Homo sapiens: one gene and its partner. The protein of the gene in region 1 purifies or fractionates together with the protein of each later gene. This does not show direct contact. Each region holds a gene or a part of one and is shown in the gene's direction. Other genes may lie near its edges.

The links. The genes of interacting proteins can lie anywhere in the genome.
Region 2: the proteins of RNF10 (region 1) and ZNF729 purify together in Homo sapiens (co-immunoprecipitation; one large-scale study listed by IntAct). This does not show direct contact.

What each region holds. Positions count from the first base shown.
Region 1 is NC_000012.12:120,537,356-120,540,855, forward strand, and holds part of RNF10 (E3 ubiquitin-protein ligase RNF10), read left to right. Parts: intron 1-3,500. UniProt on the Homo sapiens protein: E3 ubiquitin-protein ligase that catalyzes monoubiquitination of 40S ribosomal proteins RPS2/us5 and RPS3/us3 in response to ribosome stalling.
Region 2 is NC_000019.10:22,292,941-22,296,440, forward strand, and holds part of ZNF729 (zinc finger protein 729), read left to right. Parts: intron 1-3,500. UniProt on the Homo sapiens protein: May be involved in transcriptional regulation.

The sequences.
Region 1 (3,500 bases):
GTGGCTCACGCCTGTAATCCCAGCACTTTGGGAGGCCGAGGCAGGTGGATCATCTGAGTTCAGGAGTTTGAGACCAGCCTGGCCAACATGGTGAAGCCCCGTCTCTACTAAAAGTACAAAAAATTAGTCCGGCGTGGTGGTGCGCACCTGTAATCCCAGCTACTCGGGGGGCTGAGGCAGGAGAATCCCTTGAAACCGGGAGGCGGAGGTTGCAGTAAGCCAAGATTGCACCATTGCACTCCAGCCCGTCTAAAAAAACAAAAACTCATGTAAAGGCCCTTTGTTAGATTTTACAAATAACACATATGTGCCTTGAGGCAGCATTCTTTTTTTTTTGTTTAATGTGTGTGTTAGAAAGCTTGACCATGTTTGCCACCGCCAGTGTCTGCTTTTCTGGCTTCTGCTGTGCGTGTTCGTTTAGCAAGGAAGGATGGGCTTTGTAGCCAAATCCATGCTTCTTCACTAGCCATAATCCACTGCTTGCATTTAGGAACAAATTAAAAGGCAGGATATGTGGAGATTAAAAGGTTAGGAAACTGGATATTGGCTGATTTTTAAAGTTGAAACTAAGCTGCCTTAGGAACGTAACAGCTAAGACCAGTGCTACTACAGCAGATACTCAGGAGCTCTGATGCAGTGACTTCACGATGAGATGGTTGCTCTAACAAAAGGGTACACTCAAGCTCCGCATAATCCCATAAAAAGATTTCTGCAGTATCTCATAAGCTGAACACTTCATATACTTGATTCTGCTGGGAATCATTGAAAGGACCTCTTGAATTACAGAGTACTGAGTTGAGGGGAAAACAAGCGTAAGGTGAAAAGATAGTTTATCTTTTGTCAAGGTGAAAAGAGCAAGAGTTTTCAGTATTCAAATATTTAAGTCACTTTTTTTCTCCCCCTTTTCTACCTCGTGGAAGAAAGCCCTTTGGTTTCTATTCTGTAAACTGTCATTAATGGCCATTTGCTTCCTAGCTACATGATTAATTTCTTTGAGATTTTGTTCCAGTGGCTGGCTTAAATTTGCCCTTCATTTGTACACAGGAAATATGTAAATTTGGCTACCAGGATTTTCTTGATCTTTCCGGCTAGAGTCGCATACCACAGTTTCTTTGCCTGGGCTAATTGCCTGAACATTTATATAACATTCCTTTTCTTGATTATATTCCTACAGCTTCATTCCAGTAGTGTTAATAGGTATTTCTGAGAACATGCAGCAGTAAATATCCTGTGAATATAGCTCAGAGGAGAGAAGGTGGGTTAGAAAGTGGGGAAAGTCATTTAGAGGGAGCAAAGAAAGAGAGGCAAGAGAGAAGGTAGGCCGTTTATGGGCAGGCAGTGGACTCTGGCCAGGAACCAGGCTCTTGTCCCATCCCCCTGGGCCGATAGAACTGCCAGGGAGGTTAAGGGAAGGTCAGGTATTATGAGGCAGTTATTTTGAGGTTGGTGGTATGAAGCACTGCCCTGGCATTCTTCCTGTTATTCTGGTACCAGAAACCAGGTTACTAGTGGTAATCTGCCTTGAAGAATGCCTCTGAGCTGTAAATGGACCTGGAGATTTTAATGGCTTTGAAAATTGAGGTGATTTGAAGCCTTCAGTAAAACCACTTAGAGAAATTAAAAGAATTTCAGGGCCCGTTGGCTGGATTCCTTGGTTTATATGGCTTCATTGGAAGTCTAGTGGGTGCTCTTGACAGGAACGCTTTGGATTTATTAATGATAGGCTTTCAAATCATAGTAAAACTGTGTGTCAGCCACTATGGTAGGCATTTTACAGAAGTTTTCTTTCTTAATCCTCATGATTCTATGAGGAAGTATGGTAGAATATTAGTCCTGTTTCACAGAAAAGAAAATAGAGGCTTAGCAGTGTTAAGAGTGATTTGTCCAAGTAAATTTTTATGAAGTCCTAGGCGGTATTTTTCAATAAGCTTTGTATAATCACACTTAGCAAGCAGATAACTTACTGGCATGTGCATCATTCCTGATACCACCTCTCTCTTCCTTTCATTCAGAATTACTAATTTCAGCTGGATTCAATTTGTTGTCAGTTGATTCTGTAGTAAGGCCATATGTTGCCCCTCTGGAGGTGCTTGTCAACTACTCTGGATGATGGGTAAGCAACTTGCTTGTGATTACAGCATGAATCAGCAGCAGAAACTTGCTGACTGGTATTCTGACCTCTAGGCCGAGCCACCTGTTAGAACTAGAGCTAGAAATGAAGATGCCAAGTAATTTAACTGTGAAAAACTTGTGGCCCTTAATTTGGTAATGGGGGGAGGCTGAGATATACCTACTGCTACTTGGTGGAGACCTTTCCATTAGGGAAATGTGGAACAACTGAGAAGCTGGGTTAAGTTTTTAAGTCATTTATTTGTCGACTCTGGAGCCTGAGTTTAGTGGTCTTGTCCATTTTGGAATGTGTCTTGACAGTAGTTCTTGGCAGTTGTTCTCAGTGGTGGCTGTGCATCAGAATCTCCTCAGGAACTTTTTTTTTTCCCTCAAGACAGTCTTGCTCTGTCACCCAGGCTGGAGTTCAGTGGCGCGATCTCAGCTCACTTTAACCTCTGCCTTCCCGGTTTAAGCAATTCTTCTGCCTCAGCCTCCTGAGTAGCTGGATTGCAGGTGTCCACCACCACACCGGCCTAATTTTTGTATTTTTAGTAGAGATGGGTTTCGCCATGTTGGCCAGGCTGGTCTCAAACTCCTGACCTCATGAGGAACTTAAAAAAAAAAAAAATAGGGGTGTGTGGGGCCCCTTCCTAGGAATTTATTATCTTTTTTTTTTTTGTAGAGATGGGGGTCTCACCATGTTGCCCAGGCTGGTCTCAAATTCCTGGCTTCAAATGATCCTCCCACCTTAGCCTCCCAAAGTGCTGGGGTTACAGGCATAAGCCACTGTGCCTGGCCTTTTTCTGATTCTTTAAGCCTAGATTGAACCCGTGGGTCCTGGGCATTCATAATTTAAAAAGTCTGTGCAAGTGATTCTGGTGTGCAGCCAGGATTGAGAACCACCACTCTGAGATTTAAAACTTCACCCATAGTTCCTTCTCCCAGGAACTTGATATTTTTTGTTTTCCAAAATCTAAAGTGGATCATCTTATCACTCCTGTTCTACCCTCGAGTTTTTCCCATGTATATCCTGGCAAGTTGTCCACAAAACATTTCAAAAATAATACTCTGAATTTTATCTCTGGGTCCCAGGCCTGATGGTACCTTCAACCTTTAGCTGCCTTTTGCCTGGGTCTAGAGATAAGAGCCAGTCTCTCACTTGACATATCTGTCTTCATACCCTTAGGTAACTGGAAGACGAGAAACGAGTTGATTTTGGCAACTAAAATCACTAATCATGATGTGGTCAGTTGTTATGTGTTTTGGAAATGAGCAGTTTACTGTCTTATCAGTGAGCATTTCTGTAAGCATTATGAAACTGTTTCCTTGCCAGTGTGGTAATAAGTGAAGAAATGAAGACAGCCTTCTTGCTGAGTGCCAGTTTACTTTCT
Region 2 (3,500 bases), on another chromosome or scaffold:
GCCACACTGCTTTTCACAATGGTTGAACTAATTTACACTCATGCCAGCAGCACATAGCCGTTTCTCTGAAACCTTGCCAGCATGTTATTTTTTGACTTTGTAATAACAGCCATTTTGACTGGTGTGAGATGGAATCTGGTTGTGGTTTTTTCTTTGCATTTCTCTAGTGATGAGTATTTTTTTCATATGCTTGTTAGCCACATATATATCTTATTTTGAAAAACATTTGTTCATGTTTTTTGTCTACCTTTTTTTTTATAATTGAGACGAAGTCTCACTCTGTCGCCCAGGCTAAAGTGCAGTGGCATAATCTCAGCAAACGGCAATCTTCACCTCCTGGGTTCAAGCGATTCTCCTGCCTCAGCCTCCTGAGTGGATGGAATTACAGGGACTTGCCACCATGCCCTGCTAATTTTTGTATTTTTAGTAGAGACAAGGTTTAACCTTGTTGGCCAGGCTGGTCTCAAACTCCTGACCTCAAGTGCTCTTTCCTCCTTGGCCTCCCAAGGTGCTGGGATTACAGGCGTGAGCCACCACTCCTAGCCTTTTGTCTATTTTTTTTTTTTTTTTTGAGACAGTTTCGCTCTTGTTTCCCAGGCTGGAGTGCAATGGTGTGATCTCGGCTCACTGCAACCTCCGCCTCCTGGGTTCAAGAGATTCTCCTGCCTCAGCCTCCTGAGTAGCTGGAATTATAGGTGTCCACCACCACACGTGGCTAATTTTTTGTATTTTTAGTAAAGACAGGGTTTCATCATGTTGGCCAGGCTGATCTCAAACTCCTGACCTCAGGTGATCCACCTGTCTTGGCCTCTGAGAGTGCTGGGATTACAGGCATAAGCCACGGAGCCCAGCCACCTTTTGTCTACCTTTTAAGGAGGTCGTTTGTTTGTTTCTTGTAAACTTAAGTTTTTTATGGATTCTGGATATTAGACCTTTGTCAAAAGCATAGTTTGGAAATATTTTATTTTATTCTATAGGTTTTGTGTTTACTCTGTTGATGGTTTCCATTGCTGTGAAGAAGATATTTAGTTTAATTAGGTCCCATTTGTCAATTGTTGCTGTTGCCATTACTTTTGGTATTTTCATCATAAAATCTTTGTTAGTTCCCATGTCTAGAATGGTATTTTCTAGGTTATCTTGAAGGGTTTTTTATAATTTTAAGTTTTACATTTAAGGCTTTAATTCATCTTGAGTTGATTTTTGTATATGATGTAAGGAAGGGGTCCAGTTTCAATTTTCTACACAGTGCTAGGTGTTTATCCCAGCACCATTTATTAAATAGGGAATTCTTCCCACATTCCTCTTGTTAGTTTTGTCAAAGATCAGTTGGTTATAGGCGTGTGGCATTATTTCTGGGCTCTCTATTCTGTTGCATTGGTCTGTGAGTCTGTTTCTTGTACCAGTATTATGCGGCTTTGGTTACAGTAGCCCTATTGTATAGTTTGAAGTCAGGTAATGTAACGCCTCCAGCTTTGTTCTTTTTGCTTAGGATTGCCTTGGCTACTCGGGCTCTTTTTTCCTTCCATATGAATTTTAACATAGTTTTCTATAGTTCTGTTAAGAATGTTTTTGGTAGTTTGATAAGAATAGCATTAAATCATTTCTTTTTTTGGGCATTATGGCCATTTTAATCATTTTGATCTTTTCTACCTATGAGCATAGAATAGTTTTCCATTTATTTGTGTTATCTCGGACTTTTTTTTTTTTTTTCTTTTTCTTTTTTTTTTTTTTTTTGAGTCCGAGTCTCACTCTGTCACCCAGGATGGAGTGCAATGGCACAGTCTTAGCTCACCACAACCTCTGCCTCCTGGGTTCAAGCTATTCTCCTGCCTCAGCCTCCTGAATAGCTGGGATTACAGGTGCCTACCACCATGCCCAGGTAATTTTTGTGTTTTTAGTAGAGATGGAGTTTTACTGTGTTGGCCAGGCTGGTTTCGATCTCCTGACCTCAAATGACCCACCCGGCTCGGCTTCCCAAAGTGCTGAGATTACAGGCATGAGCTACCGTGCCTGGCCGTCTGTGACTCTTTAAGCAGTGTTTTGTGATTCTTGACATAGAGATCTTTCACTTCTCTGGTTAGGTGTACTCCTAGATATTTGTGTGTGTGTGTGTGTGTGTGTGTGTGTGTGTGTCAGTTGTGAAGGGGATTGTGTTTTTGATTTGGCTTTTGGCTTGCATGTTGTTAATATACAGAGATTCTGCCAATTTTTATACATTTATTTTGTATTCTGAAATTTTGCTGAAGTGATTTGTCAGTTTAAAGAGCTTTTCTGCAGAGACTGTAGGGTTTTCTAGATACAGAATTATGTCATCTGCAAACAGGGATAGTTTGACTTCCTTTCTTCCTGTTTGAATGCCTTTCATTTTATCTCTTGTCTGATTGCTCTGGCCAGGACTTCCAATTCTCTTAAATAGGAGCGGTGAGAGAAGGTATGCCAGTTTTCTTTCTTTTTTTTTTTTTTTTTTGAGACAGAGTCGCTCTGTCGCCCAGGCTGGAGTGCAGTGGTGCAATCTTCTCCGCTCACTGCAAGCTCCGCCTCCCGTGTTCACGCCATTCTCCTGCCTCAGCCTCCCGAGTAGCTGGGACTACAGGCGACTACAGGCGCGCACCACTACGCCCGGCTGATTTTTTGTATTTTTACTGGAGACGGGGTTTCACCGTGTTAGCCAGGATGGTCTCGATCTCCTGACCTCGTGATCCGCCCGTCTCGGCCTCCCAAAGTGCTAGGATTACAGGCGTGAGCCACCGCGCCCAGTCGATATGCCAGTTTTCAAAGATAAACGCTTTCAGCTTGTATCCATTCAGTATGTTTACTTTGGGCTTGTCATAGATAACTCATTATTTTGAAGTGTGTACTTTGAATGCCTAGTTTGTTGAGGATTTTAAACATGAAGGCTGATAAATTTTATTGAAATCTTTTTCTGCATCTATTGAGATAATTTTTTTGGTTTTTATCTTTAATTCTCTTTATGTGATGAATAACATTTATTAATTGTTGCATGTTGAACCAACCTTGCATCTCAGGGATAAAGCCTACTTGATCATAGTGGAGTAGCTTCTTGATGTGCTGCTGGATTTGGTTTGCCAGCATTTTGTTGAGGATTTTTTCATCAATGTTTATCAGGAATATTGGCCTGAAGTTTTCTATTTTTTGTTTCATCTCTGCCAGGTTTTGGCATCAGAATGTTGCTGTTTCTATATAACGAGCTAAGGAGGAGTCCCTTCTTCTCAATTTTGGAATAGTTTTAGTAGAATGGTTCAGGCCCTTCGTTTTACGTCTGGTTGAATTCAGCTGTAAATTTGTCTAATCCTGGGCTTTATTTTGGATGGTAGGCTATTTATTACTTATTCAATTTTGGAATTTGTTATTGGTCTATTCAGGAATTTAGTTTCTTTTTTGTTCAGTCTTTGGAGAATGTATTTGTCTAGAAATTTATGTATTTCTATTAGGTTTTTTAGTTTGTGTGCAGACAGGTGTTCATAGTAGACTTCAATAGT